Linked DNA regions of Homo sapiens. The protein of the gene in region 1 purifies or fractionates together with the protein of each later gene. This does not show direct contact. Each region holds a gene or a part of one and is shown on either strand. Other genes may lie near its edges.

Region 1 (3,500 bases):
TTCTCTGGATAACTCAGACTAATACAAGCCAGTCCTTCCATACTTTGGTACCGACTTCCTAACGCCTGCTATGTGGGAAACCTGGGCTTCAGGGACTCCCAGGACACTGTCGCACCCACGAGGAGCCCAGGGGCGGTCACTCGAGAGCTGGGTGCAAAAGCTGCCCATGGCTGCGAATCAGAACCGCCTGGCCGGTGGGGACAAGAGGCCCGGAGCCTGGAGTGAATTCCAGTCATCAGCCAAGGCCCTGGGAGCCAGGCTTAGGGAGGAGGCTCTGACAGCACACCACCACCATCGCTGCCCAGGAACCTTCTGGAGGCCTGAACCAGCTGAGCTCTCCTGTGCACACACAGTTACTGAAATCTGCCCCATCACGGGAGGAGGGTCCATCACCTCCATGGAGTAGGGTCCTCTCCCATGGCCTTGTACTCCTGACGGCTGCTCCAGAATGAGGGACAAGGTCTCCCCTGGGGCTCCGGCCACACGGCTCCCATGCAGCCGGCAGGTGGGAAGGAGCCCCTGGAAGCAGAGCCTGCCCATGTGCCCAGGCCCGGAGCCCTGACTGGTGGCCCCGCCCGTGAGCCACTTCAGGCCCCCTGTGGCTGCCCCGCCCCAGGGCACCCACTCACCTCTCGGCCCATCCTTTCCCCACTGCCCTGATGCCTCTGTCCATGGGAGAACATCTGAGGCGGAGCCTTAGGTGGCTCTCAGCCCGAGAGAAACGCAAACCACCCCGCCCCTCCGGTGCATCTAGAGAGCCAGCTGCCCTTTCCCTGGGAGCTTAGCCCCCTCAGGCCCTGTCCCTGCTCTAACCCACAACAACCCCGCAGGGGAGGAAGGGGGGATGTTGCTGCCAGAGGCCTTGGCAGCCAGGGTGTGAATTAGGCCAAGGCGATCAGCCGGGGGATAATGTGTCCCTGGAGCCTCCGGCTGGGGGCAGGCCTGGGGAGGGTGTATGCGTGCGTGTGCGCCTGTGTATGGGTCAGTGCCCGCTATTTTAGGAGGAGGCCATGGGGGCCAGAGTTCTCTTCCGATTTCCTCATGCTGGCCTGGTCAGTCAGCTGCATCTCCGGGATAGGAGGCCCTGACTCCTCTGCTAGGGTCTTTTAGAGGCGAATCCGGCTGACCTCTTCCTCCCCCTCCTCTCAAGCCAGGACAGTGACCTGGGAGGAGCTAGTGGCCACGTGCGGGTGGCTGGCACAGCCCAGACTGTGGGAACTGGGGTGCCAGCCTGTATCCCCGTGTGTGGGCAGCTGACACAGCCCGGCCTGTGCCACTTCTAGAAGCCCACCTACTTCCCTAGGCCCCATGCACTTACTTCCCAGCCTGGCTCCCTGCAAAGCGCTCTCAGCGCAGTGCGTGGAAAGGACGCAGGATCTCTGAGAAAACTATTTTAAGCTTGCCAGCCCCTGGGCCTGGCCTGGCTGACCTACTGTGGCCCAGCAAATGTCCCCAGGGAGGCCTGGAGCTGGGCTGGGTGGGTAGCACCCCTCCACATTAGGGGATGTCCCAGTCCCGGCTTCCAGGCCCCACTCAGAATTTGGAGGCCAGGCAGGACCATAGGGTCTCAGTTCTCCTTTCTCTTCAGATTCCAGCCCAGGCACTGCCTGGCAAAGCCGAGTCCCTCCTCCTGGCACCTGACGGCTCTGAGGCTGCCAGCCACAGCCACATGCCTGCCCTGCACCCAGCCCCGCCCTGAGCACCTGCCTGCTCCCCACACCATCTTCAGCTGCCTCCCCTGCCACACCAGCCCCCCAAGACACCTGGGACTCTCTCCTCTATCTCCAAATTCACTCCAGGGTCTCTTCCTCAAGCTGGATGAATGAATGAAAGGAGCTTTCACTTCTTTAGCTTGAGGCACAGACTCTGGGATCAGCATATGGGGGCCTCAGCTGTGCCTGGTACACCCCAATTTGCATACCTGGTGACCTCGCACAGGCGAGCAGGCAGGAAGCCATTGCTTTGTATGGGGCCGACAATGAAGGATTGTCTGAGCAAGAGGGAGCCAGGGTGCGGCAGCAGGGCCAGCCCAGAAGGACCTGTCCCTCAACCTGCTTGCACCCAGTCTCCACCCACTGAACCTGGGAGCGTGGGGAGGACGGGTGAAGCCACGGGTGTGTGCAGGTTTACTCTTCCTTCCGACTCATCATCCCATCCATGGAACTGAAAACTCTCCTGCCATTCAAGGGCATGTTTGAGAAGAAGACGGAGGCTGGCTCCAAGCCACGCAGGTCACGGGCCTCTCTCTGCCTCAGTTTCCACCCATAACAGAGACATCATGAGAATGAGAATGAGCCACTGAGCGTCCTACTCAAAGTGGGCCCAGTCAGCACTGGAGTTCATGGGAAACAGACTCAGAATGGAAATCCACCCTGTCCGGCCCCGGAGCCCTGCAGGCCCTGCCTGCCGCAGGTCCCCACTGCTGCCCTGGCCTCCTCAGCCTCCTTCCATGGCTGGGGTGGAAGTGGCTTGCCCTGCCCATGCTCAGGACCCCCGCTGTGCCTCGGCTACTGGTGAGTGAAGGCGTAAGTGATGCCACAACTCATGTTTTCCTGCATGTGGGGGGACCCCTTTACAGACCCGTGGTGTTCACAGCTCTCTTTGTCCTCTGGGGAAGAGGAAAGGACCTCCCCAGTTCTCAGGCTAGTCCTTGGGCACAGGGCCTGCTTCCCAGCCTGCTGTGCAGAGCAGCCAGGGCTCTGGGACTCCTGAGGGTGAAGGTGAGGAGGCAGGGGATGCCCAGGACCTCCCTCCTCCAGGAGAGCCCTGTGCACCACAGGAGGCAGGGCGGGTGGTGGGAGGGAAGGGCGGGCAGCTCAGAGGTCCGCCAGCAAAGGGGCTCAAACCTGACCCCCAATGTGTGGGAGAGACAAGACCCAGAAGGGCCCTCGGGGAGCTTGAGAGGCTGCAGGGAGCAGGTTCTGTCCAGATGAGGAACCTGCCTGGCACAGCTGGGCCACTCTCCTCCCAGGTGGCCTCCTAGGCCCATGGGTCCAAATCTCAGGTCCACAGCGCCTCCCGAAAGGCAGAGTCCAGTGGCAAATGCAAGGGCCCCAAGTGAGCCTGGGGCAGACTGGACGACACACGCCACCCAAAGCATCGCAAGCTCTCCCTGCGGCTTGGGCCAGAGGGGCAATGCCTCAGGTGCCCCCCAAGGCTTGCCAGATTAGAAAAACCACCAAGAAAAGGCAAGGTCCGTGGGCAGGAAGGGCCTGGCTGCGCGTGGGAGGGAGAGGAATCTGGGCTCTCTGGCACCCAAAAGCGACCCCAGCCACTGGTGCCAAGTCTCACCCTACGCTTGGGCTACGTGGGGAGCGGCTTCTGCAGAAGGCACGTGGTTTGAAAAAGCAGTCACCTTCCGCCAGAAATGTAGTCCCAGGGTCTAATTCTGTGTGATGCTGGTGGGAAGGAGGCTACTGAAAAGAACTGAAGGGTTGGAGACAGCCGGAGACCCCAGTGTCTGAGGACTGAGGGTGAGGCTGCGGGTGAGGATGAGGGTG
Region 2 (3,135 bases), on another chromosome or scaffold:
CTGCAGCCTCGAACTCCTGGGCTCAAGGGATCCTCTTGCCTCAGCCTCCTGAGTAACTGGGACTACAGGCTCACGCCACCACACCTGGATAATTTTTTCATCTCTGTAGAGAGGAGGTCTCGCTGCGTTGCCCAGGCTGGTCTCGAACTCCCCGACTCATGAGATCCTCCTGCTTCAGCCTCTCAAAGTGCCGGGATTACAGGTGTGAGCCACTGCCCGTGGCCTAAAATGTTTTGAGTGGTTGAAATAATTCTCAAATATTCAGAAAACGTGTCATAAATGTATTATTGGAGGTTTTTTGTCTGTTTTGTTTTTTGAGATGGAGTTTAGCTCTTGTTGCCCAGGCTAGAGCGCAATGGTGCGGTCTCGGCTCACTGCAACCTCTGCCTCCCAGGTTCAAGCGATTCTCCTGCCTCAGCCTCCCGAGTAGCTGGGATTACAGGCAAGTGCCACCATGCTCAGCTAATTTTGTATTTTTAGTAGAGATGGGGTTTCTCTATGTTGGTCACGCTGATCTCCAACTCCCGGCCTCAGGTGATCTGCCCGCCTTGGCCTCCCAAAGTGCTGGAATTATAGGCGTGAGCCACTGCGCCCGTTCTGGAGTTTTATATACTGGTACCCCTGAAAACGAGAGACTGTCCAAATAACCCCAACACGACAGAGGGCTGGAAATTTTATACCTAATGGAAAGGGACAGAAGTGCCCTTCTGAAGCTTTTTATTTCAAGGTCTGCTGTAGAAGGTAACCTTGTACTTCTGGCTGGCCTGTTTGTTTTGATGCTGGTACTTAGGCCCACGGCACCTTCTTTTGTCCTACCATTGTGGGGTTTCCTATCTCCGAGGCAACCTGGCTGTGCCATTTTGACGAAATAAGTCTGTAAAAGGAGTGCTCTCAAGGGACACAGCATGTACCTCTGGCGCAGCCTGTGTAAAAAGGCAGGCTGTGGTTGCCCACGCTGTAGCGGGAGAACCCAGGCTTTGGACTTGCTCAAGTTTGGGTCTGAATGCCAGCTGTGGGACTTTGGGCAAGTTACTATACTTCTCTGAATCTCATTCTCCCTCTTTGAAAAATGAATACAAGTACCTGCCTTCTTAGCATGTGAAATGCTTAGAAGATAGGCCTTCCACCAACTCATGGGAGGTTTCATTAATTATTCTCCCTGATAATCCTACCTTGCCAGAAGTCTGTCTCTATTTTTTTTTTTTTTTTGAGATGGTGTCTCACTCTGTCCTCCAGGCTGGAGTGCTGTAGCGTAATCTCGGGCTCACCGCAACCTCTGCCTCCCGGGTTCAAGCAATTCTCCTGCCTCAGCCTCCTGAGTAGCTGGGATTACAGGCATGCACCACCACACCTGGCTAATTTTTTGCATTTTTAGTAGAGACAGGGTTTCACCATGTTGGCCACGCTGGTCTCGAACTCCTGACCTCAGGTGATCCACCCACCTCGGCCTCCCAAAGTGCTGGGATTACAGGCGTGAGCCACGGCACCCAGCCTGTTTCTCTCTTATCTTGACCAAGCATGTGACAGTCAAGGGGAGGTGTCTTTCCCACCTCAACATACCCCTAGACCACACAGTGCTTCACAAGGAACTTCTTTCTTCCCAACCAGAGTCTTTCTTACCCAGTCCAAAGCGGTAACCATCAGAAAAGCGAGTGCTGGCATTCCAGAACACACAGGCACTGTCTACGTGCTGCAGGAAGAACTCCGCTGTGTTTTCTGCAGGGTGAAGAAGGAGAAACCAAGTTAGGATGATACCCAGAGAACATCCCTGTTTCCAGCCATTGACTGGTGACAGATCAGGGCAGGGTCTGGGTCCCCACTGGGGCCTCTCCATGTGTTCTCACGTATTAAATACTCAGGCTTATGAAAAATCTCAACAGGAAGAAGACAAGTTAGCTTCATCAATCACGGTGTTGTGGAAAGACTGAGTTGGAATCCAGATCTCCCATGCAGGTGACCTGCCTAAACTTCCTACTTATGGGCTCCAGAGCCAGACTTCCTAGGCCTGAACTCCAGCTGTACACCTGCTAGCTTTGTGACCTTCTGCAGGTGTACAAAACTCTCTGTGTCTGGGTCAAAAGGGACTTACAACATGACCTAGCTGATAGGGTTGTAGAGAGGATGAAACACCTGGGGAGTACTCATGCTAGTGCCTAGCACACAGTGAGTGCTTGGTAAATGTTGGCTGTTAATACGGGTGGTACTGCTCTGGTGCCCTAATTAGCTGACTGTAAATTCCTCATTGGGGCCCTACTGGCATCCTCCACCATTGAGGCTCCAGTATCTGACACCCAGGAGTGTCCCTGCATACATATTTGTGGAATAAATGAATGAATGAATGAATGTGCAGAGTTGGTTCTGCCTTGGTTTCCTCAGCTGTAAAATGGGTTTATTTTAACTACCTTGTAAGATTTGCTGCACGCATTAAATGATAGTGCCTCTGACAGGGTTAGTCATCTTCGAAGCAGAGCTAATCATCCCTGCCCCTCCTCCTCCAGCTGTGACAATATAATAAAGTGATGTGAAAGCACTCATCAAAGTACCAAATGCAACCACTACTAAACATTACCATAAGCCTACTCAAATGATGTTTTTCTGCAGCCCAAGGGGGGCTAAGAGGAGCAGGATCAGAAAGCAGCAAAGGCAGACACTGTATGCGGGAAGCATCTGGACACTGACCGTCCTCTGTGACGATGACATCCGTGTGGGAGCTGCCATACTTGTGGATGTGGTCAATGGCATCCTGAACGTTGTCCACTACTTCAATGCATAATTCCAGGTCCCCATACTCAGTTCGGAGTGACTTCACTTCGGAGGGGCTGAAGGTCAGATAGGAGGCAAATTTGGGGCCTGCATGAATTTTTACCTGGAACAGAGGAAGTCCAGGGGCAACAACATAAAAACAACTGAAATAAGCAAGTTCTAGGATAGAACAGAAAGGTGAGCCTGTAAAACCACAGCCCAAAGTGGCTCCTGTAGCCTCAACAACTGAACTAGTCCTACTTTCCTCCCTCCAGCATGATCTGACTGGCCACTTGCCAGCAATGGGCCCTCAAGACAGTTGGAACAGGGATTGAAGCAGGAAGCCTTGAACGTTAAGGATGTGCAAGGTGGGCCGGGCATGGTGGCTCACGC
Region 3 (3,500 bases), on another chromosome or scaffold:
ATCCTTCTCTGGCATCACTGACACCCTTCTACCCCTGTTCCAGCTTCATTCTAATTTTACTGTAGCAATTATCTTGTATTACTTATATTTATTTCCATTTTCTCTTTCCACTAGATTAAAATCTCCTTAAAGACATGGAATTTCTTTCTTTTCATCTTCCTTTTCTTTCATGTGGAGTTACGTGGCCCTACTACTTAGCATAATGGCTTTTCATTTGGTACTTAAAATTTGTTGAATAAATGGTCTTTTTCATGTTTAATAATTTTCTACTAGATACAATATAGAGTTGCATTACAAAGTTTATAACTAAAGTTTTTAGTACATGAGAAATGGAGTAAAGCAGAATTATTACAGAAGGAAGCATAAGAAGATTAGAATGGAAAGAATAAACCTCTTATCTGATGCACCAGCTAATAACAAAAATAATCTTTTATAGCTAGTAAGACCTTTAAAATCCCTCTGCTAAAAAATTCCCATGGCCTGGGATGCTAAGCTTTAGTGTGAACTGGTGGAACTGGAGCTGACTTTCTCATTCCAGTTGAGTGTTTTATACCAACACTAGTGGCAAGAGTTCCTCGAGTTATGGAGGCAAGAAAGCTATCAATCTGGATTAGGTCACTAATAAGACTGTTACGACAGAAAGAAACACCAAAAGCTCAGACTGCATTGAGGGTATGTATTCAGTTTAATTTTATATAAGCATTTACTGAGTTAGGCCCTGAGGATATAAAAATAAATAAAACATGGACTTTGCCCTCAGGAAGAGACAGCCATTTACAAAGGAAGATGGACAATGCTATACCGAAAAATAAAACCAACCAACCGAACAAAACCCAAAATTGCTACAACTAATTATTTCCATTGGTATCCAGCTCCTTTTATTTCTGGTCAAATTAAATATCTTTCAAGTAATAATAAATAAAGAATTAATATGCACTGTATCAGTACACTTGATAACATATCCAGGTGACACTGATTAACTGAGAAGGGCAGAGAATAGAGCAGTGCCATCGGAGCTGAGTTTTGCAGTAAGAGGAGAAAAAATACAGATGACCAAGGTAAGGACAGAGCATTTTAGAGAGAGGGAGCGGCATGTAAATAAGGACACATGTTCAGAGAACCTGGAGTACTCTGTTACACTGGAATCTAAGGTGTGAGGTGGACAATAGAGATAGAGCTCATATCAGACACCTGAAGTCAATGTATGCATATTAAGAAACTTAGTAAGTCAGAGAGGGAAATATTTTAGAAGATCACCAGGGCAGCACTGACAAAGGTAGACAGTATAATACCATAGATGACTCTTGAACAACAAAGGCTTGAACTGTGTTGAACTGCTTGAACTGGGAATTTTTTTTTTTAAGCAATTGCAGATGGAAAACAGAATAGTCATAGGATGTGAAACCCTGCATACAGAGGGCCCACTGTGAGGCCTGAGCTGCACAGATTTTGGTATGGAATGGGGGTTCCTGGAACCAATCCCCTGAGTATATCAAGGGAAGACTGCACTTAAAAGGCAAATATGGTTAAGTCTAGACAAGAGATGATAAAGGGTTGAAGAAACAGGTTAGCAGTAGAGATGAATAAGAAATGACATTTGAAAGACATTTAGGGGATAAAACTGACACAATCTAGTAACTGCCTGGAGGGCAACAGAGTACTGGGGTGGGGAGGAGAAAGTAGACAAGAGGGAGAAGAAAGAGACGTTTCTGGCTTTTATGGCTAGTAGATGATGATGTCTACCAAGATAGAGAAGATGTTAGCTAAAAGCTTTAACAAAGAAAGAGGAAATCTACTACAACCATTACAGTCATAGAAATATAATAGCTATTTTTAAATTCAGAGGAAACATTTAAGAAAAAAACCTAAAAATTACATACTTACAATGTTTTATCTAATTACTAAAACATGAATGTGGCTACAACTTATTTAAGACAGGTATGACTTACCCTAGCCAAGAGCTCAAATTCTGGAGCAAAATTCTGGCAAGGTCCACACCAAGGAGCATAGAAATCAATCACCCAATGATTTTTCCCTTGTAGAACTTTTTCACTGAAAGTCTGAGGTGTTAGATCTGTGGATACTTGAGGTAAAAATCTGTGGCAAATGATCAAAATCATTTTTCATTATATAAAACCAAAGCAAACATATGAAATGCAATAATATTGTAATACTTTCTAAGTTAAAAATGATGTCAAGGAAGGGCAATGTAATAAAGTACAGTACTATCTTGGTTAATATAATACTTTACTAAGTAATTTAAAATGCTAGAACCTTAACCCACAGTAAATTTAACTATTGATATAAAAGGGGGGTAAATGGCTTTGAATCTATTTTATACAATGATATATATTTTAATTACTCACCCTAGACCCCAGATTCTCAGGGAATAAGCATCCCTATTCCAACCATTGTAACTGCTGAGAGAAGAAAAAATGTTAGTTGTAAATAGGATTCTCTATTATTGGATGTATTCAGAAAACAATCTTATTGTAGCAATTTAAAAAATAAGTTATATTGATTGATTTCATCTGGTATCTCTCTTCTCAAATATACCTAGCTACAAATTCTGGTTATAAGGCCTCACAAATGTATTTTTCTCTAGTCTTGGTATCTTTGTGCCCCAGACAGCCCAGAATGTCTAGCTGTCTACTGGACATCTCCTGTAGACCTATGGGAATTGCGAAACTCAGAATGTCCAAGGGTTTTAGTTTCTGAATCTTTATTCAAGTTATTACTGTCTGTCAAATTCCTACCCATTTTTAAAGACACATGTCAAAAACTACCTACAAAATGCAGCCTTTCATAATTTCCTCATAGTTGTGACCCTTTCCTCTCTTGAAATCCATGGTTCATTTTTACTTGTTTAATAACATTCATCATATGTACCTTACATTTGAGTTTTCTACCTGAAATACCACGTGGTGTTGTGGAAACAGCATGGGTGCTGAGACAGACTTGGGTTCAAACCTCAACTTCAACTTAGCAGCTGTGTGACTTGGGGAAGTTATCTAAGCCTTAGATAACTCCTAGACCTTGGATTCTAAGGTCTGAGAATCACAGTTTACTTCTCTGTAATAGTAGGAAGGGTAGTAATTCCTAGTTCACAGAGCATATGTGAGGATTATTGGAAATAAGGTGAGTAAAGTATCTAATATAGTACCTGAAACCAAATAAGGTGTTTAAGGACTTAATAAATGTTAGCTCTTCCTTTCCTTATCTTTTTGTCTAGACTATAAGCTTTATGCACAGTGAGACTGTTCAATACTCCCTTTTCATCTTCTGAAATGTTCATTAACAAACTATCTTTACGTAGTGGGCTCCCAATAAATATTTGTTGGGTTAACTTTTATTTTGTTCAGGTAACTTAACTGTTAAGTGTATAATTAAATAATTATAATAAATGTCTTCAAATATGAGAGAATACTTACTGATAATGATAAGCTTTATTTGATTTTGGGGGAAAAAATCTTATCTCAGGGTATCTTTGAACGTTTTCC
Region 4 (3,500 bases), on another chromosome or scaffold:
AGAAGTTGTCTAATTATCAAGTGTTTTTTATTATCCTGAGTCATTTGGAACTGGAACAAATATCTCATAATTTTTATTATTTTAAGATGGATTTTTCTCTTACTTCAATATCAATATTGTTGAAAGGTTCAACTTCTTTTGATGTTCGTATTTCATTTCCTTTTGGGCCATGAATATAGTAGTGATAAATATGCCTAAAATAGAGAAGAATAATTTTATACTTTTAATTCACATAAAATTATAGTTAATGTAATCTTCTATCAAAATATTTTAACACTATTTACTAGGTATCAAGCACTTTATTAAGCATTTTAAAATACATATTCCATTTAATGGTAAAAACAATTGAGATGCAGGTATTACTGCATCTCATTTTACAGATATAGAACCTGGGGTGCAAGAAGTGTATGTAAGTTATCTGACATCACAGAATAGAGTTAGGGAGCCGTGGGCTTCAACCCAGACCTTTCCAACTTCAAAGACCACATACACCACTTCCAAGAGGAATAATTCATCAAATAAATATAAACTAGACAGCAAGAGTCTATAATTCTACTTACCAGGTACGTTCCAGAAAGGACTCAATTATCGGTGGTAAACTGGATTAGGTATCTAATCTCAATAAGAGAATACCATTCCAGAACAGCAGTCCCCAACCTTTTTGGCACCAAAACCAGTTTCATGGAAGACAATTTTTCCAGAGATGGGAGTTGAAGGGGGGTGATTTGGGATGAAAATGTTCCACCTCAGATCGACAAGCACTAGAGTCTCATAAGGAGCACGCAATATCTCACATGCACAGTTCACATTAGGGTTCGTGCTCCTATGAGAAATCTAGTGCTGCCAGTGATCTGACAGGAGGCGGAGCCAGGTGGTAATGCTCACTCGGGCCCACCACTCACTGTGGGGCCGGGTTCCTAAAAGGCCACAGATGGGTACCAGTTCACGACCGGGGCGTTGGGGACCCCTGTTCTAGAACATTCATCTCTCCTCTCCTATAGCACTGAGACAATCTTACCCTAAGATTCCAAAAACAAAACTAGTAAGTTTGACACCATCTCACTGAAAACCAACATTTTGGAAATAACACCTCTTTATTTTTTCAGAAAAGGTTAAAAAAGATTATATTTTGGTAACATTGTTCAGGATTATAAAATACCACGTCTTTATTCGTGAAATAGAAATTTGCAATATTTCTTCATAATCCTTCATTAGAGCAAGAGTATATTTAAATTATGTGTTAATGTACACTGAGTTCCTTCAATAAACTATAAAATAGCTAATAAAATATGTACTTGAAGAAAACTGCAAAGTCCTACTTAAATACCTTGGGTAACAGGGATAATAAACAACTTCAACAAGAAAAAAGGTATTCCTAAAACCAAATTTATTTTCCCATAAAAAAATTTTAAAATTCTCTTAGCGTATAATTACGTATAAAATTGAGACTCTCAAGAACAATAGCCTTTTGGGTAAATGTAAAAAGATACATTTTTAAAATATGAATTTTGAGCAGATGTACCCATTTTGCAAGTCTCAGTAATTCATACTAATGCAAATTAGGGAAACAATACAGTAAATCGTATGTATCACATAGCTATAAAAAAAAAATTTTAGGCCGGGCGCGATGGCTCACGCCTGTAATCCCAGTACTTTGGGAGGCTGAGGTGGGTGGATCACCTGAGGTCAGGAGTTCAAGACCAGCCTGGCCAACACGGCAAAAACCTGTCTCTACTAAAAATACAAAAATTAGTTGAGTGTGGTGGCACGCGCCTGTAATCCCAGCTACTCGGGAGGCTGAGGCAGGAGAATCACTTGAACCCAGGAGGTGGTGGTTGCAGTGAGCCAAGAGTGCGCCATTGCACTCCAGCCTGGGCAACAAGAGTGAAACTCCGTCTCAAAAAAAAAAAAAAAAATTTTTTTTTAGAGCCATTAAATAACTATTCCTCTGATTTGGTCTAATGGAATATAGAGTCCCTACAAGTGTTACTGGAATAAAAACACAATGATTATTTTCAGTACTAATGTCATATAGGCACATATGTACGTATATTTTTTATTTTAATAGGCTTGATGCATTCATTCACTTGATAAACATTTGAGCATCTACCATGTAGCAAGTATTCTTCTAGAAGACATTGGAGATACAGCAGTGAATTTAACAACAAAAATAAATATATATGGTATGGAAGATTACGACAGGTCCTATGGAAAAGAAGCACAAAACGGGGTCATGGAAGTGATATAGTGCTCAATCTGACAAACTGTGAAGTTCTTTTTTAATTTTATAATATTGTCAAAATCCTGTGCCTCAAATAATGCTCAGTACACTAGAGGTGATCTATAAATATTTACAGAATAAATGAATAGAGAGCTGTTTTAACACCAATATCAGAGTACTGGATAATACTAAAGGGAAGAAAATGAGACAGGAGCAAAACGGATACCAAAGAGGCTTCAATATATCTGTAATGTTTTCTGCCTTAAAAAAGTTAAGTAGCAACATTTCCTAAGCCAAATATAATTACTTACGCTAACTGTCGTGTCCAAAGGTGGAAATAATTTTTCAAGTACTGTATGTGTTCTGGTTGTACCCCTGTGATAACCACAGCAGTAAAGCTATCTTTTTCCTTCTCCTCTATGATAAGATGATGTAGAAATCTTTCATCATCATTTGTAATGTGAACAGAATCAGAGGGCTACAAGAGTGAACAGAAATACAACAGATTAAATCATCTAAATTATAATTATACAAATAGCTATTGCATCAAATTTTAATGTGATTTACTTGGAGTTTCACAAATAGGTTTCAGAAAAGCTTTGGAGGAAACTGGCCCAATACAACAAACTGGCTGAGTATGTGACAACACTGTGAAGACAAGGGAACTTTCACACAGACTGCTAAACTAGCATGCATAAAGAGCACCCTATCTTATAATGCTAAACCGATTTTAGAATCATAAACGAAAAGGTAAAGACAAATACTGAGTTTTAAAATGCCTTAAAAAATTGAGGACACTTACCCCTAGGGTAGAATGAACGCTTGCTTGGGAGACCTACCACTTAACTTGGTCAGGACCAATGCCCAGCCCTCCATGTTCAAGAAAACTACAGGGCAGGCTGGACCCAGCTAGCTAAGCCCAAACACATAGTGCTTAAAAGTAAAATCATCCTGGACACCAACCCACTTTCAGAGAATATCTAAAACTTATGGAAGGGAGTTAGTAGGGGAATTTGAGGATAAAATTACAAACTTCTCCATCTGTAGTATGAATCTATGTTTTAAAAAATTGCAGGCCGGGCGTGGTAGCTCACTCCCGTAATCCCAGCACTTTGGGAGGTTGAGGCGGGCAGATCACCTGAGGTCAGGAGTTTAAGATCAGCCTGGCCAACAAGCCGAAACCCCATCTCTACTTAAAATACAAAAGTAGCCAGGCGTGGTGGTACACGCCTATAAACCCAGCTACTAGGGAGGCTGAGGCAGGAGAATCGCTTGAGCC

The links. The genes of interacting proteins can lie anywhere in the genome.
Region 2: the proteins of SLCO4A1 (region 1) and ALDH18A1 purify together in Homo sapiens (affinity purification with mass spectrometry; one large-scale study listed by BioGRID and IntAct). This does not show direct contact.
Region 3: the proteins of SLCO4A1 (region 1) and DNAJC10 purify together in Homo sapiens (affinity purification with mass spectrometry; one large-scale study listed by BioGRID and IntAct). This does not show direct contact.
Region 4: the proteins of SLCO4A1 (region 1) and SMCHD1 fractionate together in Homo sapiens (co-fractionation; one large-scale study listed by BioGRID). This does not show direct contact.

The regions. Positions count from the first base shown.
Region 1 is NC_000020.11:62,645,503-62,649,002, reverse strand, and holds part of SLCO4A1 (solute carrier organic anion transporter family member 4A1), read right to left. Parts: intron 43-3,500; exon of another isoform or gene 1-42. UniProt on the Homo sapiens protein: Organic anion antiporter with apparent broad substrate specificity.
Region 2 is NC_000010.11:95,608,577-95,611,711, forward strand, and holds part of ALDH18A1 (delta-1-pyrroline-5-carboxylate synthase), read right to left. Parts: intron 2,867-3,135; coding exon 2,680-2,866; intron 1,717-2,679; coding exon 1,621-1,716; intron 1-1,620. UniProt on the Homo sapiens protein: Bifunctional enzyme that converts glutamate to glutamate 5-semialdehyde, an intermediate in the biosynthesis of proline, ornithine and arginine.
Region 3 is NC_000002.12:182,757,757-182,761,256, reverse strand, and holds part of DNAJC10 (dnaJ homolog subfamily C member 10 isoform 1 precursor), read right to left. Parts: coding exon 3,432-3,500; intron 2,421-3,431; coding exon 2,367-2,420; intron 2,098-2,366; coding exon 1,950-2,097; intron 1-1,949. UniProt on the Homo sapiens protein: Endoplasmic reticulum disulfide reductase involved both in the correct folding of proteins and degradation of misfolded proteins.
Region 4 is NC_000018.10:2,693,726-2,697,225, reverse strand, and holds part of SMCHD1 (structural maintenance of chromosomes flexible hinge domain-containing protein 1), read right to left. Parts: intron 2,700-3,500; coding exon 2,533-2,699; intron 195-2,532; coding exon 104-194; intron 1-103. UniProt on the Homo sapiens protein: Non-canonical member of the structural maintenance of chromosomes (SMC) protein family that plays a key role in epigenetic silencing by regulating chromatin architecture.